7 linked regions of the Homo sapiens genome follow. The protein of the gene in region 1 purifies or fractionates together with the protein of each later gene. This does not show direct contact. Each region holds a gene or a part of one and is shown in the gene's direction. Other genes may lie near its edges. The genes, in order: AHR, MRRF, PSMC2, XPO1, KLHDC4, FHL2 and CTNNB1.

What was found.
Region 2: the proteins of AHR (region 1) and MRRF purify together in Homo sapiens (affinity purification with mass spectrometry; one large-scale study listed by BioGRID and IntAct). This does not show direct contact.
Region 3: the proteins of AHR (region 1) and PSMC2 purify together in Homo sapiens (affinity purification with mass spectrometry, with the first as the bait; one large-scale study listed by BioGRID). This does not show direct contact.
Region 4: the proteins of AHR (region 1) and XPO1 purify together in Homo sapiens (affinity purification with western blotting; 2 studies listed by BioGRID, with this or other methods). This does not show direct contact.
Region 5: the proteins of AHR (region 1) and KLHDC4 purify together in Homo sapiens (affinity purification with mass spectrometry; one large-scale study listed by BioGRID and IntAct). This does not show direct contact.
Region 6: the proteins of AHR (region 1) and FHL2 purify together in Homo sapiens (affinity purification with western blotting, with the first as the bait; one study listed by BioGRID). This does not show direct contact.
Region 7: the proteins of AHR (region 1) and CTNNB1 purify together in Homo sapiens (affinity purification with western blotting; 4 studies listed by BioGRID and IntAct, with this or other methods). This does not show direct contact.

What each region holds. Positions count from the first base shown.
Region 1 is NC_000007.14:17,304,699-17,308,936, forward strand, and holds part of AHR (aryl hydrocarbon receptor), read left to right. Parts: intron 1-4,238. UniProt on the Homo sapiens protein: Ligand-activated transcription factor that enables cells to adapt to changing conditions by sensing compounds from the environment, diet, microbiome and cellular metabolism, and which plays important roles in development, immunity and cancer.
Region 2 is NC_000009.12:122,270,876-122,275,113, forward strand, and holds part of MRRF (ribosome-recycling factor, mitochondrial isoform 1 precursor), read left to right. Parts: coding exon of another isoform or gene 1-16; coding exon 17-200; intron 201-4,238. UniProt on the Homo sapiens protein: Responsible for the disassembly of ribosomes from messenger RNA at the termination of mitochondrial protein biosynthesis. Acts in collaboration with GFM2. Promotes mitochondrial ribosome recycling by dissolution of intersubunit contacts.
Region 3 is NC_000007.14:103,364,147-103,367,510, forward strand, and holds part of PSMC2 (26S proteasome regulatory subunit 7), read left to right. Parts: coding exon 1-161; intron 162-1,929; coding exon 1,930-2,017; intron 2,018-3,266; coding exon 3,267-3,364. UniProt on the Homo sapiens protein: Component of the 26S proteasome, a multiprotein complex involved in the ATP-dependent degradation of ubiquitinated proteins.
Region 4 is NC_000002.12:61,531,470-61,535,707, reverse strand, and holds part of XPO1 (exportin-1), read left to right. Parts: intron 1-1,029; exon of another isoform or gene 1,030-1,285; intron 1,286-1,804; 5' UTR 1,805-1,810; coding exon 1,811-1,936; intron 1,937-4,238. UniProt on the Homo sapiens protein: Mediates the nuclear export of cellular proteins (cargos) bearing a leucine-rich nuclear export signal (NES) and of RNAs.
Region 5 is NC_000016.10:87,762,449-87,767,322, reverse strand, and holds the start of KLHDC4 (kelch domain-containing protein 4), read left to right. Parts: upstream 1-1,336; 5' UTR 1,337-1,432; coding exon 1,433-1,531; intron 1,532-2,036; exon of another isoform or gene 2,037-2,257; intron 2,258-4,874.
Region 6 is NC_000002.12:105,381,784-105,386,021, reverse strand, and holds part of FHL2 (four and a half LIM domains protein 2), read left to right. Parts: intron 1-122; exon of another isoform or gene 123-1,911; intron 1,912-4,238. UniProt on the Homo sapiens protein: May function as a molecular transmitter linking various signaling pathways to transcriptional regulation. Negatively regulates the transcriptional repressor E4F1 and may function in cell growth.
Region 7 is NC_000003.12:41,227,005-41,231,242, forward strand, and holds part of CTNNB1 (catenin beta-1), read left to right. Parts: intron 1-203; coding exon 204-348; intron 349-4,238. UniProt on the Homo sapiens protein: Key downstream component of the canonical Wnt signaling pathway.

The sequences.
Region 1 (4,238 bases):
ATATTTCCTCCTAGTAGGAAAAAGAATGTCTTTAAAGATAGGACTATTATTTGTCTTTGAAACTACCAGAGCTTCCCAGTACAGTACCATGCACTTAGTACATATTTGAGATGTACTAATTTAACAATTAACTACCACTTAAAATTTTTTTGGTAATGTTTTAGTGATTCTGGTAAGGCAGATACATTTTATGCGGGTTCGAGGGGGAATAAAAATGTGTGTTTGCGTAGAAGAAGGGGGAGGGGAAACAATGAGTTTTCCAGGATTATGGAACTAGTAGTGGTTTCTAGGCCATATTTCATTTTCCTGATCTTCCCTGCTAATGTCTTGTGCTAGAAACTATGCTGTTTATATCTCATCATCTCTCCTCAGGTATAGCAAACAAAAGGGAAAGGAAAGAACTCATCACAATTATAGGGCAGCAGCAGGAGGGTGGCAGAAGACTTCTGACTCATTAAAAGTGGCTTCCAGCCAGAATTCTCAGAAGTTTTTGTAGATGTTTTTGACTCATATAGGGAAATAAAATATCCAGCTGTGTTCAGCCTGACAATGAAGTTGGGGTCTATTTGTGCTATGTGTCACCTCCATTACATTAAGCACATAGTTTATGATTGTAAATATTTGAAATTTATATTCAGAGATAAATACGGATGCACTGAAGCTGGGGGAAGGAAATGAAGAATGAATGGGGTTAAGAGTTGGGCTTTATTGGGTGTAGGTAGTATGGTAGGGGGATTTTATTGAGGAATACTTCAGATTTCCTAGCTGTTAGATGGAGAGTAGCACCATAGTGCTGAGAAGCGGGTGCCCAACTCCAGGGGAATGTTGAATGGAAGGGCACAGGGTCAGGTACAGGGACTGGAAATAAAGATAAACAAGTTATGGGTAAGTAGACCAACGCAGTAAGAGTAGATTAAATCACCCCGAGGAAAAATCCGATAGAGCAAACTCAGTACTGTGAGAGGCAATCTCTTGTTAAAAAACGTCACTTTGATCTCATAGGATTACTGAAACCATATCTTTGCATGTCATTTTGAGGTTTTATAATGAATATTATATAAAACAGTTATATTTATGAGTAAACTTGGTTAATTTTTTCAGCTTTGCTTCAAACACTGGCTACAAATGATGAACCTCATAGACTTTTTTGATGGAGATGTTAAAAAGGCTTTCAAGATAGCATTCAGACTGGCATTGGGCATACTGTTGGGCCTGTTACCACCAGCAGTTAAAGCTTGCAGGGCTTCTAAACAGAAGCATGGCATGCAGTCAGCTGGAGTCTTGATTTCATAACAATTTTACAGATTGGGACAAGATTTTTGAGGTAAAGGTTTCAAAAAATAATAAGTTACTCCTTTGCCTGACCAACATCATACGGTCTATTTCAGGAGATGTTTGAACTCCAGAGCTCCCAAATCCAATCTTACAGGGATGTTTATTTATATTTCAAACAGGCTTTTCCTTAAATAATGGTTAGCAGTGTCCTTTCTTAAAGATTCGAAGACAATACAAAAGTAAAAATATTAGCGTAATCCAAGTCAAGTGCAGTTAATGTAAGATTACTCTATTTTTAATTGTTCTGTATATCTTCAAGATGTATGGATAGATATTAAATATTTTAACAAAATCTGTACATTTCTCACAAAATCAGTGAAAAAGTGGGTCAAATGCATTACCTTTGTTAGCTTTAACAATCTGACATTTTAAAAGCTTCAAATCCAGTACATCTGAATTGTTAAGTTCTGAGGGTACTTCTTAGCCCTGACCTTAATTCCTCTGTGTATTTGACTTTCTTCCTCTGTGTATTTGACTTTCTTCTATGACCTCCAAAATATTCTACCCTGGTTTTTTTCCGTCTATCATTTCTTCTCTGTGTCTATGCCTCTTCCATAGCCCTATACCTAAATGTTGGTATTACTGAGGTCTATCCTCAAGCCACTTTTTTCCTTTTCTGGTACAGCTCTCATTAGGAAATGTAGTTGTTCTTCTGAGCTACAAATCGCAGAACCATTTGCAACCTCTCCTCACTCAATGGTTTCCTCTTCCTTACTTCCTATAGTGAGTTAGTTTAGTTCAGTGAACATTTGAGTCTGGCTTAAATCTCTCTTCAAGCCAGTCCTTTCTTAACCTCACTGTCACTGCCTTTGGTCAGGTTGTGATCATTCCTTTTCTTGGCACTTTTGGTCAGCAAACATTAATTGAGAATCCACTCTATTATGCTGGGCATTAAGGATACAAAAATGATTTAAGCTTACATAGAAATAAGGGTGTTAGGCAAACAAGTATAAGCAATTATGTTACTTGACAATGGAAATTTGCTCTCATGTTAAATATTTTGTAAGACACATAGTAATGCATTAGAAATGTAGACAATTTTGCATTATGAAAAGCAAGCCTCAGAATCTAGTGTGAGGCTGAATATTGCAAAGAGCCAGCACAAGACAGGCAGCAGTACCACATGGAGGGATACCTTTATGTTACTATTAGTTCTCCCTGTGTCATAGCATGTTGCCTTGTTTCAGCGTTTGTGTCACTCTCTTCTCTCCAGTGTTTCATAATCATTACTGGAAAGCCACCAAGAGTGCAGGACTGGATTGTGTACACACTTTCTATTTCTGTGAAGTTGTTTGTATGGAATATTCCTTAATGGAATCATTATATTAGACATTTGTATAAGAAGTCAAATGGGGCAGAGTTGCTAATCCATTGTGAGGTAGGTCAGGGAGGACTTCATGAAAGTGATCTACTTGAGCGGGGACTTGAAACCAATGGGACATAACAAGGAGGTTGTATGAAAGCACTAAACCACATGTTGTAACTGTAAGTAATTTCTTAGCTCTGGGGTAGAATAGACAAAAGCGGCTTCAATAGAAGAAATGAAGCCAGAGGGGTAAATGAAGCTAGAAAGATCATGAAGGATTTTGTGTGCTAAGCTAAGGAACATGGACAGTTCAGAGCTACTGAAGGAGTTTAATCAGAGGAGTGACACAGTCAGATTTATGTTTTAGAAAGAAGTTCCTGGCATCCCGGAATCCTAACTTCAGCGAACCCTGCCCTGCTTTCTGTATACTCTATCACCAGAGTCAGCTTGGTGAAACACAGGCTGATCTTGTAAATCTCAGCTCAACACTTAAGAACAGATGCCTAAGTCCGATTTCTATCGTTACTTTGCTGTCTCCTCTATCTTGAACATTTTTGCATCAGACACCCACATAGCTCACTTCATTTTACTCATGTCTGTCCTGAAACATCACATCAGAGAGACCTTCCTAGGCTGTCCAAACCAGCATCACGTCTGTCACCCCTTAGTTTCTTACCTTGCTTTATTTTTCTTCTTAGCACTCACCGCCCTAAAAGTTATATGTTTATTTGTTTATTTCTCCATCCTCCACCTAGGATGTAAGCTCCATGACAACAGGAGCTTTTGTATATTTTGTTTACCTGTAAGTGTTCTGTGCTGGGCACTTGATAGGTGTTCAGCATTTGTTGAAAGAATGTGGCCCCAACCATCCTTCTTCTTTTCTCTCTTTCACCCTGTGCCTCTCCCTTCATGTGGGGGAATTCTTACAGTTCACTAATCCTTAGTTATGCCTCTTCATGAAATCCTGTCCCTCACTCAAGATCCATCTCAGATACCACCTTTTCTGTAAAATCTTTTTTCAAGCAGTTGCTGCTTCTGCTTAGCTCCCATAACACTTTTTGAATAGTTAGGAGAAAAGTGTTTACCTGGGCTGTACAGGATGTGATGGATATAAATAAATACTTGTCAGCAAGTTATTAATTAACCAGTAGAGAATTACACAATGAGGTAGACAAGCATTATAGGTAAAGTTTGAAATTCAGTTGGTTAAGTGGAGAAGTGAAGTAATTAGGTGTGACTTGAAATTTGTTTATAAATGCAATATGATTAGGGGAAAATAGCTAGGGGAACCATCACCAATTTCTATTATATACACAGTTGTACAGACAACCTGGAGAAGGTATCTGTTGATACATACATAAACACACACACACACACACACACACACACACATCATTTTACCGATGTATTACCTTTTTTGTAGAAGTATTTACTTTTCATCTTCTTTCTGCCTAAAGTATTACTTCTCCACATACATCACTGAAAAGAAATTATCTAGAAATGTTTTGATTGGGTCATATTAATAGCACTATGCCCAGGCCAATTTCTACTTTACAAAAGCTGATATAATTCCATTTGAATTGTCAAAAATGTCTTT
Region 2 (4,238 bases), on another chromosome or scaffold:
AGGATTGTCTTCAGTCATGGCCTTGGGATTAAAGTGCTTCCGCATGGTCCACCCTACCTTTCGCAATTATCTTGCAGCCTCTATCAGACCCGTTTCAGAAGTTACACTGAAGACAGTGCATGAAAGACAACATGGCCATAGGCAATACATGGCCTATTCAGCTGTACCAGTCCGCCATTTTGCTACCAAGAAAGCCAAAGGTAGAGACATGTGACGTTCTCTCCTACTTCACCCCTTTCTTATAGTTGGCCCTTGAATTATAGCTGGCAGGTATCTCAGATGTACTGAATTTCTCCCCTTGCTAACATGAGGAAATGGTGCCTCAGCTATTTCATTGGATTAGCTTAAAAGGTTACAGTGGCAGAGATGGTGTTATAACCCAGTGCCTGTTTTCTCATTACCATGCTGCCTCATTTGTTTTCTTGGTAGCTCAGAAAATGCCTAATTTCTTTCTTTTAGATTTAGAATTAAAGGTTTAAGTGCCAAGCAAGCCAGAATGCTTGTAGCAGGGATCAATATATTGTCTCCTTATAGGAAGATGCATGTTGGAAGTATAATTAAGACCAGAAGGTGGTTGGGTGAAGTGGGTATTAGAGCCATGGATTTAGATGGATGATCTTAATGGCTTGTGTCATCCAGGAATGAGACTCTGATGTACTGCAGGTCTCAGCTTAAATGCTACTTCCTCTGGGAAGCCTTTCCTGACCTCTTAGACTAGGTCAAGTCCCCTGTTGCCTGCACTCGTGCATTCTGTTATTTTGCCTTTGATGCACTTAGAACAGCAGTGATTAATTAATTAAATGTAAGATTGATTATCGTTTATCTGTCTTCTATGCTGGACCTGATGAAGGTAGGTTCTATATTGTTCTTATTTAGCACCTAACAGGGCCTGGATTTAGTATGTATTGACAAATTTTGTTGAATGAAAGAATGAGTGATAGAAAATTGTCAGTCACACCAGCAATTTGCAGTGGTGGATCAGGGAGTCCTCCCCCAAGAATGGCGCTAGATATATGCTGCTGAATATTTTCCCACTGACTTTCCTTTTCTAATTTCATGCAGACCTTCCCCTTTCTGTAATAGGAAAATTAACAAATTACTGGAAGAACAGTAATGCTTAGAAGAGTTATATTCTGTTAATAGTGTTAATAGTAATAACCTTTGATCTGTATGTAGCATTATATTTTTTAAAGTTTCTATACATTTACTAATTTTATTCTTATAATTATCCATTGAAGGAATTATAATTTTCCATTGAAGAAATCCTTATAATTATCTAGTTAATCCAGATCTCACCATTTTATAAACGAAGAAACTGAGATAGTTTGTGAGAAATTTGCCCATGTTCCTATATAGTTAATGGCAGAACCAGAAACTTGAGTTCCTGATGCCTACAGTACTGCAGTCTTCTAGTGTAATAGACAGTTACAGTGCATAAGCAGCATTTTTTCATATTTTGTGGGCTATTCAGTTTTGTCTTCTTTGATTGCCTCTTTAAAAGTTGGTTTAGCCGAGTGCTGTGGCTCACACCTGTAATCCCAGCTACTCAGGAGGCTGAGGTGAGGGGATTGCTTGAGGCCAGGAGTTTGAGATTAGCCTGGGCAATATAATGAGACCTTGCCTCTTAAAAAAAAAAAAAAATTGCTGGGCCTGGTGGCCTGTACCTGTAATCCCAGCTACTCAGGAGGCTGAAGTGGAAGGATGGCTTGAGGTGAGGAGTTTGAGGCTGCAGAAGTTGGTTGTTTGACTTTTTCTTTTAGATTTATTCGATTCTTTCATATTAGGGATGCTCATTCTTTGTCCATATGTTCCAAGTGTCTTCTTTGCTTTTTACTTTATGATGTTTTTGTTGAACATGGGTTTTAATGTCATATTTTTTAGTCCTTTATTAATTGTGTCTTCTTTAAGAAATACCCGTCTATTGCAAGGTAATTTATTTCTGAATATAATGTGAGGTAATTTTTAAAGTTTCCTTTCCAGATGGATAAGAAGTTGTGTCAAAATCATTTATTGATTAGCCTACTCTTTACTCCCAGATTTGTAATGCCCCGCCCCATTGTGTGAGTTTCTGTATATATATGGCATTGTGTCTGAGCTGTTGATTTTATTGAACTGCTTATCTCTCCCTTCAGTAAATTTCATACTGCCTGACTTAGTGTCATAAAGTCCAATTTACTGGTACAGATCTTTCCCCTCACCACACATATGCTTTTCTTTTTGTTCTTGACTTTCTCCTTTTCTATATGAAATTTATGATCATAGTGTCAAGTTTTCTCCAGACAGCTCTTGCACAAGGCCAGGAGTGGTGGCCCACGCCTATAATCCCAGCACTTTGGGAGGCCAAGGTGGTTGGATTGCTTGAGCTCAGGAGTTCCGACCAGCCTGGGCAACATGGGGAAGCCCTGTCTCTACAAAAATTAGCCAGGTGTGGTGGTGCACCCCTGTGGTCCCAGCTACTTGGGAGGCTGAAGTGGGAGCATTGCTTGAGCCCAGTAGGTCAAGGCTACAGTGAGCCATGATGATGCCACTGCCACTCCAGCCTGGGGGACAGTGAGACCCTGTCTCAAAAAAAAAAAAAAAAAAAGATCTTGTACAGTTATTTAATCAGTTCTTTAATCAGGTTTATTTCTGGGGGAATCCTATCTTTTTTTTTTGTCACTTTTATATGTATTAGTTTTTTGAGTTATATATAAGGAAAAGTGTTTACGTAAATCATAAGTTTGTGCTTCAGTGAATTTTCACAAAGTGAACACAATCATGTACTTATTACCCAAATCAATAAATAGACTGTCACTTGTGTTTTCCAAACTTACCACATGTCCCTTTGAGTTGTTACTGTCTCACTGTAAGGATAGATAACCCACTATATTGACTTTAACACCACAGATTAGTTTTGTCCTTTGTGACGTCAGTATGGATTTTGTGTCTGACTTCTGTGGTAATAATCTATTTGTGAGATATGTCCATGTTGTGCACATAATGGTTGTTTGTGCATTTTTATTTTTTTAATGATATTCTACTGAAAGTATATACCACAATTTAATATCCATCCTACAGTTAACAGACATTTGGGTTGTTTCCAGTTTTGAGCTAAAACAAATAATGCTAGTATAAGCATTCTTGTACATGTGTTGTGGTGCACATATGTCCCTTTCCATTCTTCTCCCCTCCTGTCCTATTGCCCTCCCTTCTCCTCTCCTCCCCTCACTGTCATTGGATTGGCTAGGAACTCTAGTGTAATTTGAATAAATGTGACTGGTGATAATAGGCATCTTTGTTTTAGTCCTGACTTTATAGGAAACACTTCTTATATGTTAACCTTAAGAGTTATGTATGTGGAGAAATCATATTACCTGACTTCAAATTATACCACAGAGCTATAGTAACCAAAACAGCATGGTATGGGCATAAAAACAGACACATAGACTGTGTTAGTCTGTTCTCATGCTGCTATGAAGAAAAACCTGAGACTGGGTAATTTATAAAGGAAAAAGATTTAGGCCAGGCACGATGGCTCACGTCTGTAATCCCAGGACTTTGGGAGGCCAAGGTGGGTGGATCACTTGAGGTCAGTAGTTGGAGACCTGCCTGGCCAACATGGCAAAACCCGGCCCCTTGCGTGTTTGATAGAACTTGCCTGTAAAGTAATATGAATCTGGTGTGTGTGTGTGTGTGTGTGTGTGTGTGTGTGTGTGTGTGTAGGTAGACTTTAAATCATAGAATTGGTTCCTTTAATGATTATGAGACTGCTTAGATTTTTCTCTTGATTTAGTAAGTTATATATTTTAGGAAATTTTTCATTTTTTTGACCTTTCAAAGTTGTTGATATAAAGTTGTTCATAATAGTCTCTTATTAAGATTTCTACTATTTTTATAGTCATGTCCATTTTTTCTTTCTTAATATTATTTATCTGCATCTACTTTCTTCTTTTCTTAATTGTTCTTGACAGAAGTTATAAACCTTTTAAAAGAGTCTTTAATTTTTTGATCTCTCTTTTTTGCAATTTTATGATTTCTGTTCTTTATTATTTACTTTCTCCTGTGTACTTGTTCTGTTTCTATCCTCTGAGTTGGACAATTAGTTCATTAATTTTTGGTCTTTCCTGTTTTCTTTTTTTCTTTGAAAAATTTTATTATAAACATGATGCTTTGATATACATGCAGTGATATGGTTACATACATGCAAATTAACATATCCATTATCTTACATAGTTACCTCCTTTTTTTTTTTTTTGCGA
Region 3 (3,364 bases), about 86 Mb from region 1:
AGAGGTTTGTGAACCTTGGCATTGAGCCTCCCAAGGGCGTGCTGCTCTTTGGTCCACCCGGTACAGGCAAGACACTCTGTGCGCGGGCAGTTGCTAATCGGACTGATGCGTGCTTCATTCGAGTTATTGGATCTGAGCTTGTACAGAAATACGTCGGTGAGGTAAAGTAAATTTATCAAAGAATATATAGCCTTGTGAAAGATTTTACAGTATGAATGAAATTAAAAATGGCACTTCTGCATTGAGGGATCCAGACCTGAAATTTCTTTTTTCTTTTGTTGAGACAGAGTCTCATTGTGTTGCCCAGGCTGGAGTGCAGTGACATGATCTCAGCTCACTGCAGTCTCTACCTCTCTGGGCTTAGGCGATCCTCCCATCTCAGCCTCTCAGGTAGCTGAGACCATGGCTACATGCCACCACACCCAGCTAATTTTTCTATTTTTTGTAGAGAGGGGTTTTACCATGTGGCCCAGCTGGTCTCAAACTCCTGGGCTCAAGTGATCCATCTGCTTTGGCCTCCCAGAGTGCTGGTAGTATAGGCAAGAACCACCACGCCCGGCCTGAGACCTGAAATTTCTTGATTGTAATTAGTAGTTTAGAAGCTGCCTTTGTGGTCATTTGGAGATAGGCAACCACTTAAAATTTTAACCAGTATGCCCCCTCCTCAAAAGGGTGACATTTTCTACAGATGTGGCTTTTCTACGGAAATGCCTGGTAAATTAATTAAAAAGTATACTTTTACTTCAGGGGCAGTGTTTTCAGTCCTAATGAGAAAGTGAGAACATAGGTTGTTTTTATGTTTGTAGACATACATATATATATATATATATATATATATTTAGAGAATAAGTCTAGGGCTATATGTATTGTATCTGAAACCTGTTGATGATTCGTATATTTACAATAAGAATTAGCTACGGAGCTGCGTGAGTTGAGGTATCCTTTTATTCCCTAACTAAAACTTGCAAGTCAAATTCAATGATCAGGAATTCCAAGTGATAGATCAGATGCTTTTATTTACTCAAGTTTTACTAATTAGAATGGTTCCTTTATTTAACTATTAATTTGACCTCTTCAGATCTGAAACCTATTGCTATTTAATAGATACAGAATCATGAAAATGACTTAATATTTTAAGGCTGGCAAGATTAATTTGGTGGACTGGGGAGCAAACTTCAGTCTTTTTTAAAAAAAGTTTAGATAGGCCAGGCACGGTGGCTCATGCCTGTAATCCTAGCACTTTGGGAGGCAGAGGCAGGCGGATCACCTAAGGTCAGGAGTTGGAAACCAGCCTGACCAACATGGAGAAACCCCGTCTCCATTGAAAATAGAAAAAGCCGGGTGTGGTGGCGCATGTCTGTAATCCCAGCTCCTCGGGAGGCCGAGGCATGAGAATCGCTTGAACCCAGAAGGCGAAGGTTGCACTGAGCCAAGATCGTGCCATTGCACACCAGCCTGGGCAACAAGAGTGAAACTCTGTCTCAAAAAATAAAATTAAAATAGCTGCGCGCAGTGGCTCACGTCTGTAATCCCAGCACTTTGGGAGGCTGAGACGGGTGGAACATGAGGTCAGGAGTTCAATGCCAGCCTGGCCAAGATGCTGAAACCCCGTCTCTACTAAAAATACAAAAATTAGCGGGGTGTGGTGACACATGCCTGTAATCCCAGCTACCCGGGAGGCTGAGGTAGGGGAATCGCTTGAACCCAGGCGGCAGAGGTTGCAGTGAGCCGAGCTCGCACCACTGCACTCCAGCCTGGGCGACAGAGGAAGACTCCATCTCAAAAAAATAAAAAAATAAAAAACGTTTAGGTAATAATGGGTGAGAATACTGTTAGGAATAAATATTGAAAAGTTTGAAGCATAACTTTTTACTTATTTTAAAATATTTTGAAACCAATTTTGAATTAATAAATCATTTTTCTCATTAGGGGGCTCGAATGGTTCGTGAACTCTTTGAAATGGCCAGAACAAAAAAAGCCTGCCTTATCTTCTTTGATGAAATTGATGCTATTGGAGGTGAGAATGATACGTTAGAGAACTGCTTTAGGATTCAGTTTCATGAAAGCTGTAAAGTGATATGTCGTGATATGTTAATCTTGTACAGAATTTTAACTCCAACTCTTCTATGAGCTCTGAAACAGTGGCGCCACAGATCTAATAAGTAGTAGTGCTAAACTATAAAGGCAAGAAGACACATTATATACCATTGTCATTTTTTCAAAGCCTTTATTTTTGTGCTATGGGTTGAATATCCCTTAGCCGAAATGTTTGAGAAGTGTTTTGGAATTCACATATTTTGGATTTTGGCTTTTGAAGTACTTGCATTATACTGATTGAGTATCCCAAATCTGAAAACCTGAAATCTAAAGTGCTCCAATGAGTATTGCTTTTGTCATGTTGGTGCTCAAACTTTCAAATTTTGAAGCATTTTGGATTTTGCATTTGCAAATTTGGGATGCTCAGTCTATATCTGATTTCATTCATACAACACCTATTTCCATACTTTAAACAACTCGTAAATTGAGAAGTATCATCTAATGTCATAAGAAAGCACTGGGGCATAATTTAATTGATGGTGGTTTTTCTTAGTGCACATAAAATAATGTTCTTGTTGGCTTCACAGATTTGATGAAATACAGTATTAGCCATGAAATCTAGACTTTTTTTTTTGTTTTAAGAAACAGTCTCACTCTGTTGCTCAGGTTGGAGTTCAGTGGCATGATCTTGGCTCACTGCAACCTCTGCCTCCTGGGTTCAAGCAATTCTCATGTCTCAGCCTCCTGAGTAGCTGCAATTACAGATGCCTACCACCATGCCTGGCTAATTTTTGTATTTTTAGTAGAGACGTGGTTTCACCATGTTGGCCAGGCTGGTCTCGAACTCCTGAGGACAAGTTATTTTAACTAATCTCTGAGCCTCAGTTTGCTCATCTTATAAAGGGAATAATTGTTGTCTTGTGTACTTCATGAGTTTTTGAGAGGTCCAAATTAAGTAATAAATGTGGTAGACTTTGAAAACACTAAACTGCCCCATAGGCAGTTTAAAAAACGTTAAGTAAATCTGTGATGAATACTTTTGAAAGCAAAGATTCACTTTCTAATTAGTTTTATATAAAGCAAGCTGTTCTTACAGGATTTGCTTCAAAGTGGGATGTCACTTGTGCCTGAGGACATGATTTGAGCTGAGATTTTTGGTACTTTCAGGTCATGCATAGTGCTACTCTTGAGTGGACTTGAAGAGCTTATCTTTCCTTTTGTCTTCTCAGGGGCTCGTTTTGATGATGGTGCTGGAGGTGACAATGAAGTGCAGAGAACAATGTTGGAACTGATCAATCAGCTTGATGGTTTTGATCCTAGAGGCAAT
Region 4 (4,238 bases), on another chromosome or scaffold:
GGACCAATTCTTGAACTCCTAATTTCTTGAGTTTTACATTATTTTTACATCATATCAATCATAGGTGACTCATCTTTTGGAGTTCTAATCTGTTGTAACAGACGTTATATTTAAATAAGACAATTGCATTAAAATAGAATTTGCTGCCATTATTGTTATGGACATTTTTAAGCTGTTATAAAATAGCCAGGAATTAATGACTTTTTTTCCGCCCTGCCAAGCTAGTTTGTCTAAATATAATGTAAAGAAATTAGCTACTCATTTTCTGGTCCACGAAAGTTCCTAAAATGGGAAGAAGTGGAGATCTGACCTTGTTAGTTCTAAATACACTAAACTGGGAGTGCCATGGATGGCTTTCAGGATGTCCTGAATCCTCTATAATTGTATACAAAATCGTGAGTTTTTAAAAACTGGGTTAGAGCTATTGGTTCCTCAGAGTCTCAGGCATCTTAGACCCCCAAAAAGGTTAAGGACTACTGACTTAACCAATTAGGTTTGAGTGGCATTGGCTTTGAAGAAAAGCAGAGGAAAGATATATTTTATAATTCTGGGCAACAAAAAAGTGGATGTGTGCCAGCATCTTAGAGTAGAATCCTCTTAAAAGGATAGCACTGCATATGAACTAGTAGGTTTTAACCAGTGCATATTTAGGCGAAGTAGCTCATTTTTCTGTTAGAATTCTTTTTTATTTGGGAATGGGCAAGCTTTTACAGCTTTTACCTTGCCAATGAATACCTGGAATTTAAAAAATCTTGTTAGGCATATTGCCCATAAAGTTTTTTTTCCTAGATCATATATTCAGTAAATATGTTTGTAGCTTTATTTCAATCCCCCAATTCATTGAGGGTTGAAACAATTTGAATGGTTTGAGTGTAGAAGCTAAGTTATTTCTGTAGAGGCTAAGGGCATTTATACCAAGATATGTTAGACTTGTGGTTCCTGCTAACCATTGCTGTAGACAATAGGAATTACTGTATATCCACATTTTAATTTTTAACATCATTCTGTCTTTGTTTGTTTGTTTTTGAGATGGAGTCTCATTCTCTTGCCCAGGCTAGAGTGTGGTGGTGCATCTCGGCTTACTGCAAACTCCGTCTCCTGGGTTCAAGCAGTTCTCCTGCCTCAGCTTCCCAAGTAGCTGGGATTACAGGTGCCCGCCTCCATGCCTGGCTGATTTTTGTATTTTTAGTAGAGACGGGGTTTTGCCATGTTGGCCAGGCTGGTCTGGAACTCCTGACCTCAAGTGATTCGCCCACCTCGGCCTCCCAAAGTGCTGGGATTACAGGTGTGAGCCACCACGCTCGGCCCATTCTGTCTTTATAGCATTATTTTTATAAAGTTAAGATAATGTGAAGTGAGCTTTTACTGAGTTATTCAGAAGACCCTACTTGGGAAGAAAAGAAAATCACATTCACTTGAACTTAATCCTACTTGCTTAAAAAGTTTTGACATCAAGATACTGAACTGTATCACGTTTTAGGACCATAAAATCCTAATAGTGGATGCGTTTAAATAATAGGTTAGCATACTTTATAAATGTTAGTAGAATAGGAAAGTCTTCCTGGTGTATAAACTAAACACTAGAAAAGTTGAATGGACCATAATAATTTATGTAATTATCAAATAGCTAAGTAATTTCAGCTTTTGTTACTTGCTTTTACTATCTCAGTTTTCTGTAATTAAAGTCTCTAAAGTATTCATTAAAATATTTGTAATAACATGGTTGAAGTAAAATAACTTGTAGGAAGTTTTTGATAATACCAAAACTTGATAGGCAGCTTCAATTTTTTTTCTTTATTTTCAGTAATCTATGCCAGCAATTATGACAATGTTAGCAGACCATGCAGCTCGTCAGCTGCTTGATTTCAGCCAAAAACTGGATATCAACTTATTAGATAATGTGGTGAATTGCTTATACCATGGAGAAGGAGCCCAGGTAAAGTAGCCAACCAAAACTTTATAACATTATGACAGTGTAACAGAGTTGTTGGGTTTAGAATAAAATTTTAAATTATCACCTTTAAAAAAGATATTCCATAGTTTGCATTAATTTGGAATTCTGTATTAACCATAATGAAAATTGGTTTGGAGAAAGAAATTGCATGTTTGACATGGTTAGAGTGGGTTGTTTTGGAATATTATACTTGTTTTGTCCTTAAGAGCCAAATGTTATTAAATACTTTGTAGGTATTAAAGGTTCTCTGTACTTTTATATATACTTAATATGTTTGGCACTAATACGATTCTTCTACTTTTAAAACATTTACAGAAGTACTTCACAGATATGTTTGTTTAAATAAAAACAGGAATACCAAGTATTTTTATGTTAGTTGAATTTTGTGCACTTTTCAAAGTGGTACTGTTAATGTAGGGAATTATCTTAAACATAAACCAAATTTTGATCAGTTTAAGATTTTTGGTTTTTTTGAACCCAACTAAAAGGTGAAACAGAAATGTGTGTACAATTTTAAATTGTATATGTCACAAGAAAAAAAACTTGATTTTTTACCTGTGGGGCCAAACTTTTTTTTGAGACAGTCTCGCTCTGTGGTCCAGGCAGGAGTGCAGTGGCGCTATCTCAGCTCACTGCAACCCCTGCCTCCTGGGTTCAAGCGATTGTCTTGCCTCAGCCTCCCTGGTAGCTGGGATTACAGGCACACGCCACCATGCCTGGCTAATTTTTGTATTTTTAGTAGAGATGGGGTTTCACCGTGTTGGCCAGGCTGGTCTTGGAACTCCTGACCTCAGGTGATCCACCTGACTCGGCCTCCCAAAGTGCTGGGATTACAGGCATGAGCCACCGCGTGCTGGCCCAAACATGTTTTTGAATGAGTAAAAAGTTTTGCAGTTGGGTCAGAAATCTTTTTTTTTTTTCAGATGGAGTCTTGCTCTGTCACCAGGCCTGAGTGCAGTGGCACAGTCTCGGCTCACTGCAACCTCTGCCTCCCAGGTTTTCAAGCAATTCACCTGCCTTAGCCTCCCGAGTAGCTGGGACTACAGACGCGCCACCATGCCCAGCTAATTTTTTGTATTTTAGTAGAGATGGGTTTCATCATATTGGCCAGGATGGTCTCCATCTCCTGACCTCGTGATCCGCCTGCCTTGGCCTCCCAAAGTGTGGAGATGACAGGCATGAGCCACCGCGCCTGGCCAGAAATCTTTTATGGTAGTTTTGTTGCCAGAACAGTAGATTTCTGGTTAGATAAATGTTCAGCTAGTAGATGGGAGGTTACTTATATTGTCAAGATATTTATATTTGCATAATTAAGAAACTGAGTGCCGGCCGGGCGCGGTGGCTCACGCCTGTAATCCCAGCACTTTGAGAGGCCGACGCCGGCGGATGACGAGGTCAGGAGATCGAGACCATCCTGGCTAACACGGTGAAACCCCGTCTCTACTAAAAACACAAAAAATTAGCCAGGCGTGGTGGCGGGCGCCTGTAGTCCCAGCTACTCGGGAGGCTGAGGCAGGAGAATGGCGTGAACCCGGGAGGCGGAGCTTGCAGTGAGCCGAGGTTGCGCCACTGCACTCCAGCCTGGGCAACGGCATGAGACTTCGTCTCAAAAATAAAAATAAATAAATAAAATAAAATAAAAAAACCTAAACCTGAGTGCCATTACACTTTCTGAAAATATATAAGGTGGATACAGTACTATCTTTTATAGTAGTCCAAAAAGCATCATGTATAAATGTTTCCATTCCCTTATGAAATGCAACAGTACTGCTTTTACTATAGTAGAAACTTGAAAAAGGTCCATGGAAACGCTAAAAGTAGAAAAAATTACTCTTGCAGTGATTCTGTAAGCTTGTTAGCCCAGGTTTATACTTTTAGGGCGTTTTGATCAGTATATTATCTCCTAAAGCATTCTTGAAAAAATTAACCATCCGTATTTATTATCCCTGTCATTTAGTTGTTACTCATGCTATACATTCAACATGAAGCTTTAAGCTTCATTTCTTCTAGCATGGATGCATAGAAAGCAGCTGCTTTTGGAGGAAGCTATGAAAGTAAGGTTGGGTTCAACTCTGAATGTAATATTGGAAGCACAGGTCTGTAGCCATTGGGAAAAAGGGCATTTAATTTTTTCCGCATAGATTCAGCTACTAATACTGTTTAATCTTCACACTAAACTAGTTCACTACATCTAAAGGTATGATAAATAAACCAACATAGAGCAGTGTTCTTCATGGCTTGTAACAGAATTAGTGGCAATTTTTGTAATTGAGAATATATTACA
Region 5 (4,874 bases), on another chromosome or scaffold:
AATTGAGTACCCTTTCAGGGTGCTATCATTAGCTCTAGCCTACCTATGAAGAAACAAAAGTCCTCCATGTTAGGACATTTGAGGACATGCCCTTAGTACCTAACAGTGTCTGGCACATTTTAAATGGGAAGGTGGAAGGGCCCCCCCATTTTTTTTTTTTTTTAAGATGGAATTTTGCTCTTTTGCCCAAGCTGGAGTGAAGTGGCTTGATCTCAGCTCATTGCAACCTCTGCCCCCTGGGTTCAAGCAATTCTCCTGCCTCAGCCTCCCAAGTAGCTGGGATTACAGGTGCCCACCACCACGCCTGGCTAATTTTTGTAGTTTTAGTAGAGACGGGGGTTTCACCATGTTGGCTAGGCTGGTCTCGAACTCCTGACCTCGTGATCCACTCACCTCGGCCTCCCAAAGTGCTGGGATTACAGGCGTGAGCCACCGCGCCCGGCAGGGACTGTCTTACTCAGGATCTGCAAAATCTTATAACTGTGTGAAATTTTTTTTCTGGGAAAAAAGCACTCATTTGTTTGGTCTGAGGGGAAAAAATGGGGCTAGCCCAAGAGTCGCCCACTTAGTTCTACCCAGGGCGAAGCAATGTGCCTTAACGGGGGGCACGTGCACCCCGGAAAACTCAAGAGAAAATGAGCCGGGCGTGGTGGGCTCCTGTGGTCCCAGCTACTCCAGAGGCGGAGGTTACAGCGAGCCGAGATCGCGCTACCGCACTCCAGCCTGGGCGACAGAGCAAGACCCTGCCTCAAAAAAATAGAAATAAAAAATAAAACTCAGAGGGCACGTCTCCTAGGACACGGGGACAGGCTAGGTGGGGGCACAGGGCGTGAGAATTGGCGAGCATGGCCGGGGTATGTCAGGCCGGGGCTGCCATCTTTTTTGTTTTTTGAAACAGGATCTCGCTCTGTCGCCCAGGTTGGGGTGCAGGGGCGCATTGCTGCCTGGAACTCCTTGACTCAAGCGATCTTCCCGCCTCACCTTCCCGAGGAGCTAGGACCACTGGGCGCGAGACACCACGCCCGGTTAATTTTTTTTTTTTTCTTCTGTAGCGACTGGGGGTGGGGGGTGGTGTCTCGCTTTGTTGCCCAGGCTGATCTCGAACTCCTGGACTCAAGCGATCCGCCCGCCAAGGCCTCCCAAAGCTCCAGGGTTACAGGCATGAGCCACCGCGCCCAGCCCGGGGCCGGTCATCTTTTCCGGGGCCTTATGCAGAGTCCGAGGCCCCCGAGCCCGCTGCCGAAGACGGAGCTCCAAGACCGAACCTCGTAAAGGGCCCAGCCGCACCTCTACCCGGAAGCGGCTCGAACTCGGGGCCGGAAGTGACTCCATTTCTGTGCGCCGAGCTCCGCCCCACGAGCACCTGTTTCCGAGCGGAGAGCGCGGGCCGTTTTCTTTCCTGGTGTCCCGTCGCGGCTTGGGACCCGGCAAGATGGGCAAGAAGGGCAAGAAGGAGAAGAAGGGCCGCGGCGCGGAGAAGACGGCCGCCAAGATGGAGAAGAAGGTGTCTAAGCGCTCGCGGAAGGAGGAGGTGAGCGGGTCAGACCGGGCTTAGCGGCCCGACGTCGCGGCCGTGCAGCCTCGGCCGACTCCCTGCGCCCCCCGGGGTTACGGGTCGGCCGTGGGAGCCGCGCCGGCCCTGCGGGAGAGCTGGAGGCCGTAGGAACTGCCCCGGCGCCGCGTCCGGGCAGCCCAGACGGGGCCCGCCCCCTCCTGAGTCTCCACGTGTGTCTGTCCGCTTCTCGGAGCTGCCCCCTTTAACGTGCTTGCTTTTCTTAGTGTGGTGTCACGGGCGTTTTTCTGCGTTTCCTCCCCCTCCTCCCTTCTCCCTCCACCCTCCCTCTGAAGGGAGGCTGGGTGGTGAGAAGAGGGAGGGGTTTGGCACAGGAAGACCTGAGGTTGAGCCGGGGGCTGCCTCTGCATGATGTGTGGTCTGGGAGTAAGACTCTTAACTTTTCTGAACCTTACTTTTCTTTCAAAAGAGGGCAAATAATCATCACAGCAGCCCTGAGCAGTGAGCAGCAGATGGTTAAGTGAAGAAGGCACTGGAGCCACGGGGTATCCCGTAGCAGCTGATGGCGGCCATCACGGTTGTCTCCTTCCCTCTGGTCCTCAGCCCGGGGTCTGCAGGAGGATCCGTCCTGACCTTGGGGTTGAGTGTTCTGCGGCTGCTGCTCATGGATTCCCTAACCGGGGCCAGTTTTATGGCCTGCCGTGCGCCAGGCACAGCTCCCTGGGCTTTACTCCTCACGAGCAGGTCAGTTCCGTAGCACTGGTATTCCCATTTGACAGGAAGACCAACAGGTGAACCATGAAGTGGTATGGAACTGGGATGTGACCAGATGTCCTGAATCAGGAGCTCTTGACCACAGTCCTTTGTCCCTTTTCTTCCTAAGTCATTGATCTCTCCATGTCCTCATCTCTTAAATAATGGAGTTGGACTTTTCCCTCACACTCCTCTTAGGCTCTTTCTTTTTTTTTTTTTTTTTTTTGACAGAGTCTTGCTCTGTCACCTAGGCTGGGCTGCAGTGGCATGACCTGCTGGCTAGGGTTGTGGCACAGGAAGTCAGTTCATCTGTGTGGTATCTTCAGAATGGTGCTTGGCAGAAAGTAAGCACTCAGTAACCAGCTGTTAGCTGCTTTCTGCTTTTTTTTTTTTTTTTTTTTTTTTTTTTTGAAGGAGTTTCACTCTTGTTGCCCAGGGTGGAGTGCAATGGTGCGATCTCAGCTCACTGCACCTCCGCCTCCCAGGTTCAAGTGGTTCTCCTGCCTCAGCCTCCCAAGTAGCTGAGATTACAGGCATGCACCACCACACCCAGCTAATTTTGTATTTTTAATAGAGACCGGGTTTCACCGTTTTGGTCAGGCTGGTCTGGGACTCCTGACCTCAGGTGATGCGCTCGCCTCGGCCTCCCAAAGTGCTGGGATTACAAGCCGTAAGCCACCTTGCCCCGCCAGTTACCTGTCATTTTTACTCATCTCCATGTCTCCCTCCAGTACCCAATACTAAGGTGATTGTAACAGTAGCTTCCCTTAAGAGAGAGAGCCTGTCAGGCCTGGGGTTTGTATGTTATCTGAATGAACCCTCAAAACAAACTTTTAAAATAAGTGGGCGTCTGATTAGGCTAGACCCACAGAGGATCATCTCTTTCTTAAATTCAGCTGTGTCTGTAATACAACCTAATCACAAGAGTGGTATCCCATTCTTTCACAGTCCTGGCAATTATTGGGGGAAGGATTGGGGACAGTTTGGAATTCTGCTCCCACAGAACTCATGTATCAGGTCACCTGGTTCGCACCTTCACTTAGTCCTGGCCTCTGCCTGTCTTTCCAGCTGTCTCCCTGGGCTCACTCCAGCCACAGTGTCTTTTAGTGTCTCAAACATGGCAAGTTGTGTCTGTGGTCTTACCTATACCCCAACCATACTCCGTCTGAGTCGTCTTTTCAGCATTCAGCTTATTGTCACTTTGGAGAGGCTGTCACTGGCTAGGCCACTGGCGTCACCCAGACCCTACCACCTTGCTCTCCTTCAGTCACCCAATGATGATGAGGTTCAGCCAAGGTCAAAGACCGCTCTAAGTAGCAGCAGCAAAGCTTTCGCGGTACATAGACGTTAGTATTTGAACTGTTTGTTTAACCTCGTTGAGCAAAAAAAGCAAGTTGAAAGAATATACAGTATGATACCATTTAATGACATTTTATTTTTTATTTTTTTTGAGATGGAGTCCTGCTCTGTCACCCAGAGCAAGTGTCGCAGTGGCATGATCTCAGCTCATTGCAACCTCTGCCTCCCAGGCTCAAGCAATTCTCCTGCCTCAGCCTCCCGAGTAGTTTGGGACTACAGGTGTGCGCCACTGTGGCCGGCTAATTTTTGTATTTTTTAGTAGAGACGGGGTTTCACCGTGTTGGTCAGGCTGGTCTCGAACTCCTGACCTCAAATTATCCACCTGCCTCGGCCTCCCAAAGTTCGGGGATTACAGGCGTGAGCCACTGTGCCCAGTCCATTTAATGACATTTAAAAATGTAAAACAATACTATATGTTGCTTAGGGATACACATGTGTAATAAAAGATTGAAGAAAAGCGTGAGACTAATAAGCATCGAGTTCCAGATAGTGGTTACTTGAGGGAATGTGTGGGTGGGTACATGTGGGTGACACTTTATTCCTTACCCTGGGAACCGTATACAGGAATGTCTTGGATAAAGTTCTGTTAACTTGTGTGTTTTAAATATTGCATCGTTTAGAATACTAAGCAGTGTACCCTGCTGACATTCACCCTGAGATGAGAGGTAGACTGAAGGAAGCACGAGGTGGGGCGTGGCAGGCTGAGGGAACCTGGCGTTTTCATTGAAGGAACGGAGAGGACGCTGGTGTATCTTGGAGAGTGAGGCCAGGTGGGAGGTGAGGTTGGAGAGGTGGGTGTGGGGGAGGGAAGATGGTCTGCAGGTGTGTGTAGTTGCAAGCAGGACACTGAAGGCTAGAAGGAACTTGAAATGCCAGGCTCGGGTGTGCATGGGAGTGTCTCGTAAATGTTGGGAAATGGGCACTGGGACTGAGGCGGGAACACTGGGTTCCAGTGCTGCCCTCTGTGCTGGCACATCAGTACCTTGAGTCACTCTCGATGGTAGTAAAAGTTGAGACCTTCTTACTTGGATAGACTGCAGCTGGTATTTGCTGAGCTCTTGCTGTGCAGGCAGTGTTTTAACTAGACACAAGTCTTGCTCTGGTGGAGCTCATATTTTATTATTTTGTTGGGGTGGAGGAAACAAATAAGCAAGAGAAATATATCAGACACTGCTCAGCAGACAGGAAGGCAGGCAGGCGTGACGGCCCAGGCCTGGGCTCTGAGAGGTGCTGAGGGTGTCTGCAGTGA
Region 6 (4,238 bases), on another chromosome or scaffold:
CCCCGTGGTGAGTAACGTGGAGCAGGTGCTGTGCTCAGTCAATATTTGATGAATGAATGTGTACATGAGAGAACCAGAGTTGGTTCCTGGATAAATGGGCACATAAAAGCACAAAGTCCTTGGAAGATTGTGAGCTCTTTTCCTTTAATGAGAGAAGGACAGGATTTGTATTGTTTCCTTTCAATGGGGAAATGTGTTCATGGCTCTCCTGGTATGTCACAGCGTGGTTCAGCAAAGACCACTGGTCACTTGTACCAACTGCCCCGTGGTTGAGGGTGGTGAACCCTGACCTGCGCTTCTCAGCAGACTCTTGTTCCAACCTGGATTGCTGAAGGACACCCTGGGGGACCCATCCATAGCTCTGAACTCTCTGATACCTTCACCCGCAAACGGCTTCTAAAACACTCCAGTGAAACCCCTCATGTGGCTGTCATCCTGAGTGCCGTGAAACTGGCTACAAAATGGGATTCCTTTGGCATCTCTAAAGGAATTCCCAACTGAATGGGCACCAAGTCAGTTCATGGCATTTTACTATCTCTTTTCTGCTCTCGTTGCTTTGTGCTCTGTAGGGATTTTTGCTGCTCTCCTCCCTGGTCGTTAATATCAGCACATTGCCGCTGACTGATTGACTTAGGCCATGCATGCAGTTGGATCATTCTAGCACATCCAACATGTGTTCCTTCTATTTCCTTCTCTGATCACATCATTCTTAGGAAAGACAGGAATCAGAAGGCTGCACCATCACTTTCTGTTCCCAGGGATTTAGTGACAGTTGAGGGATGGTTTCCATCTTGTAGCGAAAGAGACCTCTGCCTTGAGCAGAGACGAAAGAGGTACAGCACCAGCCCCCTAAACCAATGCTGCAGCCCTGTGTCTTTTGGCTTCAGGGCAGATGCTGTGCTGAATGTAAAAGAAACGAAACTCAACAGTGGTATTGTGCCAAACCTTTGAAATACCATAAGCAAAAATAGCTGATCTGGCTACTCTAAAAGTTGTGTATCTTCCTGTATCCTGTCTTGCCTGCTGCGTGTCTCACTGCACCTGACGACTTTTCTCTGTCCCTTTTCATGTATTTAACAGGACAAGCATGAGAGCTCAGCCACCAGACTGCCCAGTTCCAGCCCAGGCTCTGTGTCTCACTTGCTGTGTGGCCTTGGGTCAGTTACTTGACCCTTCCGTGCACATCTCCACATCTATAAAATGGGGAGAACCAGGCCAGGGGCATAGGCTCAAAGCCTATAATCCCAGCACTTTGGGAGGCCAAGGCGGGTGAATCAATTGAGGCCGGGAGTTCGAGACCAGCCTGGCCAACATGGCGAAACCCTGTGTCTACTGAAAATACAAAAATTAGCTGGGCGTGGTGGTGCATATCTGTAATCCCAGCTACTTGAGAGGCTGAGGCACGAGAATCACTTGAACCTGGGAGGCAGAAGTTACAGTGAGCCGAGATCATGCCACTGCACTCCAGCCTGGGACACAGAGTAAGACTCTGTCTCAAAAAAGACCCAAAAAAAACTGGGGAGAACCAGGGGTCTGCTTCATAGGGTCTTTCTAGTATGTAGATACAAGCCCTTGCACTCGCACTCGTACTCTTCTAGCAGCTGACAGGGTAAGCTCCAGACTGCCACCTTTCTGCTGACTACTTCCTTATTCTTTTCGTGACACGTCCCTTCCACACACCTTTCAGAAGCTTCACCCTCTCTCTTTGTCGCTTTTCATTTTGGAAACATCAATAAAAATGTCCAGTTTGAGGAAGAAGTAGATAGCCCGAGAAAAATATAATTATAAAAGCTTTAGCTGGAAAAGAAATACTTACGTAGGTGAGAGGTTCAGATATCATCTGGCAAAAGGTAAGTCTCACTTTCAAGGACAGATTTTGGATATTTGGGGCTAATCATCCCTGACCAGTGGCTGAAATAAAAACAAAACAAAAATCACTTGCTGTTTCTCCAGTGATTTAGTGGAAAGACCCTTAAAAGCCGTCATCCTTCCACGCATGTTTTATGAGCAAATAAACAAGAGTCTCCCAAATGGAGCCAAAATCATCAAGGCTGCTGTCAAGCCAGGAGTGAATTGTGCTGAACTTTTCAACCCGGATTAATGTTTTGAGATACGTGGGGTTACACTGTATGATTTTGTACATTTTGGAACAAAAAGAGACATTGAGTTGAAGCGAGACCTTGGCATTTGGGGCTTTTGATGCTTTAGGCGTGCTTTTCTTGACTTTCAAAAATAATCGGGTAGTTGGGTTTGTAGTGGAAGCAATGATAGAAAAAAATGTTCCTGTTTTTTTCTGGAAGTAAAGCCCACAATCCTGGCAGGCGGGGAGATACCTGATAGAGGAACTGTGCTCTTAGGTCTGGTGGCCAATCTCTTCTCTTAAAATAGCACAGCCACCACAGGCCTCAGCTACTTCCCTCTAAAGGACATGTTCATGTGTGTGAGTTTTAAATGTTGGCATGCCTATGGGAATTAGGCTAATTTTGAGAGTCCTGACCTACTTAAATGAGACAGGCAAGACTTCAGAGCCTGTTATATAGTTTGAACATCCTCTCTATGTAGCCACTGAATTGTAATCTTTATTTCTATTAAGTTACTCTGGGAAAATGCTGTGATCTCAAAGGGTAAAGATTATTGATTTGTATGGCCAGTGTAATAGTGGAGAATAGACAATGCTAATACAATTTTATGATCCTCTGACATTACATGCTTCCTGAACCTTTTCTTGGATACCTGTTAGCATTAACAAAATATTTTCGTAGACTGATTACAGAGTTTTTGGGGGATCTGCCTACGTTCTGGGCTTCAAAAATTCAACCAACTAAAGAAAAAATAGGGCTGGGCACAGTGGCCCACGCCTGTAATTCCAGCACTTTGGGAGGCCGAGGCAGGTGGAACACTTGAGGCCAGGAGCTGGAGACCAGCCTGGCCAACATGGCGAAACCCCGTCTCTACTAAAAATACAAAAATAAGCTGGGTGTGGTGGCGTGCACCTGTAATCCCAGCTACTTGGGAGGCTGAGGCAGGAGAATCATTTGAACCTGGAAGGTAGAGGTTGCAGTGAGCCAAGATTGCGCCACTGTACTCCAGCCTGGGTGACAGAGCAAGACTCCATCTTAAAAAAATAAAAATAAAAAATAGGCTGGCCAATAACTCCAGAGACAGCTGCTAATACTGTGCATTTAACAAATTGGTGATTTTAAGCCCTGGGCGACACACGTAACCTAGACTTTGAATGTTCCATGGGTCTGCAAGCAATGCCATGAAATTGGACTGGCCACCATACCCACCCATGTGCTTGGAGGGTGCTACAAAGAGAAAAAAAAAATAATAAACAAGAACAAAAGATCTGCAGATCAGAAACTAGCATTCAGGGTTTAGTTTCTAGTGGTAGTCTTTGAAACCACTGTGTATTGCCTGATGACTTGTTCCAGGCACTTGTAAATGCCTAAACTGCATGATCTAAATTTCTCCTAACACCCTATAGGTAGGAACTTTTTTCATTCCATTTTATGGAGTAGCCGCTGAGGCCTAGAGAGGATGAGGATCTTGCCAAGGGTTAAAGGGATTAGGAAGTATCCGAGGTACAATTTGAGCCCAGACCCGGAGGGTCCTCACCTAGCATGTGATGCCACCTGCTACCTGCAGCCTCGGGCAGGACCCTGTCTATGTGACTCTCGGGCCAGATGTGGTCAGTCCTTATGAGTAAGAGATGGTGACCACCTGGCCTCAATCAAGTGACCTTCAGTCAGAGGCCCCTACTCTTCTCATGGGCCCCTTTAGATGGTGATGATTACATTGCAGAATTGAGGCTCAAGTTGTTTCACAAACTCTCTTTCCAGCTTTTGTAGCTAATAGGAAACATTGAAGTGATGATCAAATTGGCTGTAAAAGTCTCAGTTAATGTTTGGTAATGGACAGAAATGTTCAGTGATATTTTGGCAGAAAGCAACCTGGCAGGGCTCTGAAATAGGAGACGAAGGTTTTCACACATACAGGTTAAATCTAGATGCCCCTAGTATATTTTGGAAGGTTTCTGACCAAGCCTAGTGAAAGGTGTAAGGTCAGGTTTGAAAAACCCACCCTTCTGTCCTCGGTGTAACACAGGCCTCCCTCGCTGGTCTTTCTGGACCCTTTTCTGGGAAGAGCACCTACTCCAGTCACATTCTCAGGGTCCAGCCTGCCAACCTGGTGCTTTTTTATTTGTTGGGGTGGTTTTTAAGTTCTCAATGAGCAAA
Region 7 (4,238 bases), on another chromosome or scaffold:
GAATTTGAGTGGAATGCTTTAAAAGGACAAGTTGGATAGGGCCCCAGTATGGGGGTCTGAGTGATGGGGTCCAGGAATACATTTAGGTCCAATGGCAAGCTGGCTGAAATTCTTGTATAATAAAATAGGTTGGTAATATGGCTCTTCTCAGACATGTGATCAAGATTCCTTGACTAACAAGATATATATATATATCTTTCTAGCTCATCATACTGGCTAGTGGTGGACCCCAAGCTTTAGTAAATATAATGAGGACCTATACTTACGAAAAACTACTGTGGACCACAAGCAGAGTGCTGAAGGTGCTATCTGTCTGCTCTAGTAATAAGCCGGCTATTGTAGAAGCTGGTAAGTATATGTATCTATTCTGAGTCTTGTGTATAGCATCTGCAGTTCTAATTAGATTACTTTTCTTAGGAAAAGGTGGTAGAACTTTAACTACTGAAAATAAATGGTCCTATTCAGTTTGCAGCCAAGATTTACATTCAGAGTACCTGTCATCTGGATTGTAGCTAAATATTTAAGGCTAGTTTAGGTAGAGTTCTTATTATCCATCAAAAATGATGGCATATGTTTTGCTTAATAAAATTTGTTTGTAATTTCAGTTTTGAGTAAACCTAAGATTTGCTAACAGAGCTGTGAATTTATAGGAGAAAAGACAAATTCTAATATAGTACAGTTTTATGTAAAGTGATTGCTTTATTAGTAGATGCTCATGAGCAGTTTTTGTTTTGTTTTAACTTTTAGGTTCCGGGTAATGTGCAGGCTTGTTATATAGGTAAATTGCATGTCACAGGGGTTTCGTGTGCAGATTATTTTGTCACCCAGGCAGTAAGTATTGTACCCAATAGGTAGTTTTTCAGTTCTTTACCTCCCACCCGTAAGTAGGCCCCAGTGTCTGTTGTTCCCTTCTTTGTGCCCGTGTGTACTCAGTGTTTACCTCCCACTTATAAGTGAGAACATGTGGTATTTGGTTTTCTATTCCTATGTTAGTTTGCTTAGGATAATGGCCTCCAGCTCCATCCATGTTGCTGAGGAAGACATCTTGGTATTTTTTTATGGCTGCTTAGTATTCCATAGTATATATGTACCACATTTTCTTTATCTAGTCTACCATTGATGGGCATTTAGGTTAATTCCATATCTTTGCTATTGTGAATAATGCTGCAGTGAACATATGCATGCATGTGTCTTTATGGTAAAAAGATTTCTTTTTCTTTGGGCATATACCTAATAATAGGATTGCTGGATTGAATGGTAATTCTGTCAGGTTTTTTGAGAAATCACCAAATTGCTTTCCACAATGGCTGAACTAATTTACTTTCCCACCAGCAGTGTATAAGCATTCTCTTTTCTCAGCAACCTCACCAGCATCTGTCATTTTTTGACTTTTTATTAGTAGCCATTCTAACTGGTGTGAGACGGTATCTCATTGTGGTTTTGATTTGCATTTCTCTAATGATCAGTGATGTCGAGCTTTTCTTCATATGTTTCTTGGCCACTTGTATGTCTTCTTTTGAAAAGTGTCTGTTCATGTCCTTTGCCCACTTTTTAATGGGGTTGTTCTTTTTTGCTTGTTAATTTAAGTTTATTGTAAACTCTGGATATTAGACCTTTGTCAGATGCATAGTTTGCCAGTACTTTCTCCCATGCCAGTACTTTCTCCCATTCTGTAGGTTGTCTGTTTACTCTGTTGATTTCTTTTGCTGCGCAGAAGCTCTTTATACTGTCCCATTTGTCAGTTTTTGTTTTTGTTGCAACTTCTCTTGGCATCTTCGTCATGAAATCTTTGCCAGGTCTTATGTCCAGAATGGTATTTCCTAGGTTATCTTGCAGAGTTTTTACAGTTTTAAGTTTTATATTTAAGTCTTTAATCCATTCTGAGTTGATTTTTGTACATCATGTAAGGATGGGGTGCAGTTTCAATCTTGGATGTGGCTAGCCAGTTATCCCAGCACCATTTATTGAATAGGGAGTCCTTTCCCCATTGCTTGTTTTTGTTTACTTGTTAGGTGTGCGGCCTAACTTCTGGGCTTTCTTTTCTGTTCCATTGGTCTCTGTGTCTGTTTGTATACCAGTACCATGCTGTGATTGTAACCTTGTATTAACAGTATAGCTTGAAGTTGGGTAAAGTGATTCCTCCAGTTTTGTTCTTTTTGCTTAGGATTGCCTTGGCTATTCAGGCTCTTTTTTGGGTTCATATGAATTTTTAAATAGTTTTTTTTTAATTATGTGAAGAATGCCATTGGTAGTTTGGTAGGAATAGCATTGAATCTGTGAATTGCTTTGGGCTGTATGGCCATTTTAACAATATTGATTCTTCCTGCCATGAAATAGAATGTTTTTTCATTTGTTGGTGTCATCTCTGATTTCTTTGAGCAGTGTTTTTTGTAATTCTCATTGTAGAGATCTTTCACCTCCCTGGTTAGTTGTATTCCTAGGTATTTTATTCTTTTTGTGGCTTTGGTAAATGGGATTGCATTCTTGATTTGGCTTGCAGCTTGGATGTTGTTGGTGTCTAGAAATGCTTCTGACTTTTGTACATTGATTTTTATATCCTGAAACTTTGCTGAAGTTTATTGGATCAAGGAGCTTTTGGGCAGAGATTATGGGGTTTTCTAGGTATAGAATCATATTGTTTGCAAACAGACTTCCTATTTGGATGCATTTTCTTTCTCTTGCCTGATTATGAGCAGTGTTTTGCCCTGATATTCTGTATTCTCAGTGAATAGATGTCGTCTAAGTATGAGAAACAATTTTTTTCTATTCTGAGTATTTTTAAGAAGGCAACTTATATGTGGTACTTTGTATATTGTGTATGTTGGCAATTGGGGAAAAGAATAGATGGTTTGTACTAGGGCCTCTTGGGTTCTGTGTGTGTGTGTGTGTGTGTGTGTGTGTGTCATGAAAACAGTTACTTTTTAGCTACCAAGCATTTTTTCTCCTTTCAGTAACCCACCTAACAACATTTACTCAGAATTTCAAAGCAAGCTTCAAATCAGTATTGAAAGAAGGAAAAATATAAAGGCATTTAATGGAAGAAAATGTTGGGAATAAAGTATAGGGCTGGCAACACTTACTTTTCTCACTTATTGAGAGTAATTTTACTTGGGAATTTATGAGAGAGAAAGACATTATGATTGCTCCAGGTAACTACTGGCAGAGGAACCATAGTCTTGGGGATAGACAAATGTGGCTGAGTTCATATAGAATGAGGGGATGGGATGTAAATTCTGTCAGCTGTTCCAGCAGTAACCTGTAATGTAGGCTAAAAATACAGATTTTGAGATTTATTTAATCAGAATCCCTGGAGTGTTAATTTTTATATCAAGATCTCATAGTGTTTTATTTGAAGTGACAGGGAGGTCTGTAGATAGCTGGACATGTATGGGACTGGAAGCTTAGGAATCTTTAAGTTCTTCCAGGTTATTCTTATGTTCATTTGTTTATTCTGAAAATAGCATCTAATGTATTTTAAGAAATGGAATAGGCACATAGTATACATTGGGTAACACAACAGATAGGGTCCCCGTGCTTAATTCTTAGTCTTGTGAAGGTGACAAAAATACTTAAAAATATGTGATCCTAAATTAGAATGAGTGTTATGGGAGAAATGACAGCAAATAGTGATGAGAATTAATGGGGAGGGGAATTGTCTAGATGAGAGGGAAAAGGTCTCCTTGAAAAGGGGATGTTAAGTGGGACTGCAGGATGAGAGGGAACCGTCTCTTGTCTATATGAGAAGTGAGGGTTAAACGTTTTCCAGGTAGAGAAAAGGAACACCATGTGCTATGTCTTAGAACCAGGGATATCCAGTCTTTTGGCTTCCCTGGGCCACATTGGAAGAAGAATAATTGTCTTGGGCTACACACCAAATACACTAATGATAGCTGATGAGCTAAAACAAAAAAAAATTGCAAAAGAATCTCATAATGTTTAAGAAAGTTTACGAATTTGTGTTGGGCTACATTCAGAGCTGTCCTAGGCCATGTGGCCCATGGGCTGCAGGTTGGACAAGCTTGCCTTAGAAGGAAAGAGATTGGTCAGGCACGGTGGCTCACGCCTGTAATTCCAGCACTTTGGGAGGCTGAGGTGGGCGGATCATGAGGTCAGGAGATCGAGACCAGCCTGGCTAACACAGTGAAACCCCATCTCTACTAAAAATACAAAAAGTTAGCCGGGCGTGGTGGCAGGCGCCTGTAGTCCCAGCTACTTGGGAGGCTGAGGCAGGAGAATGG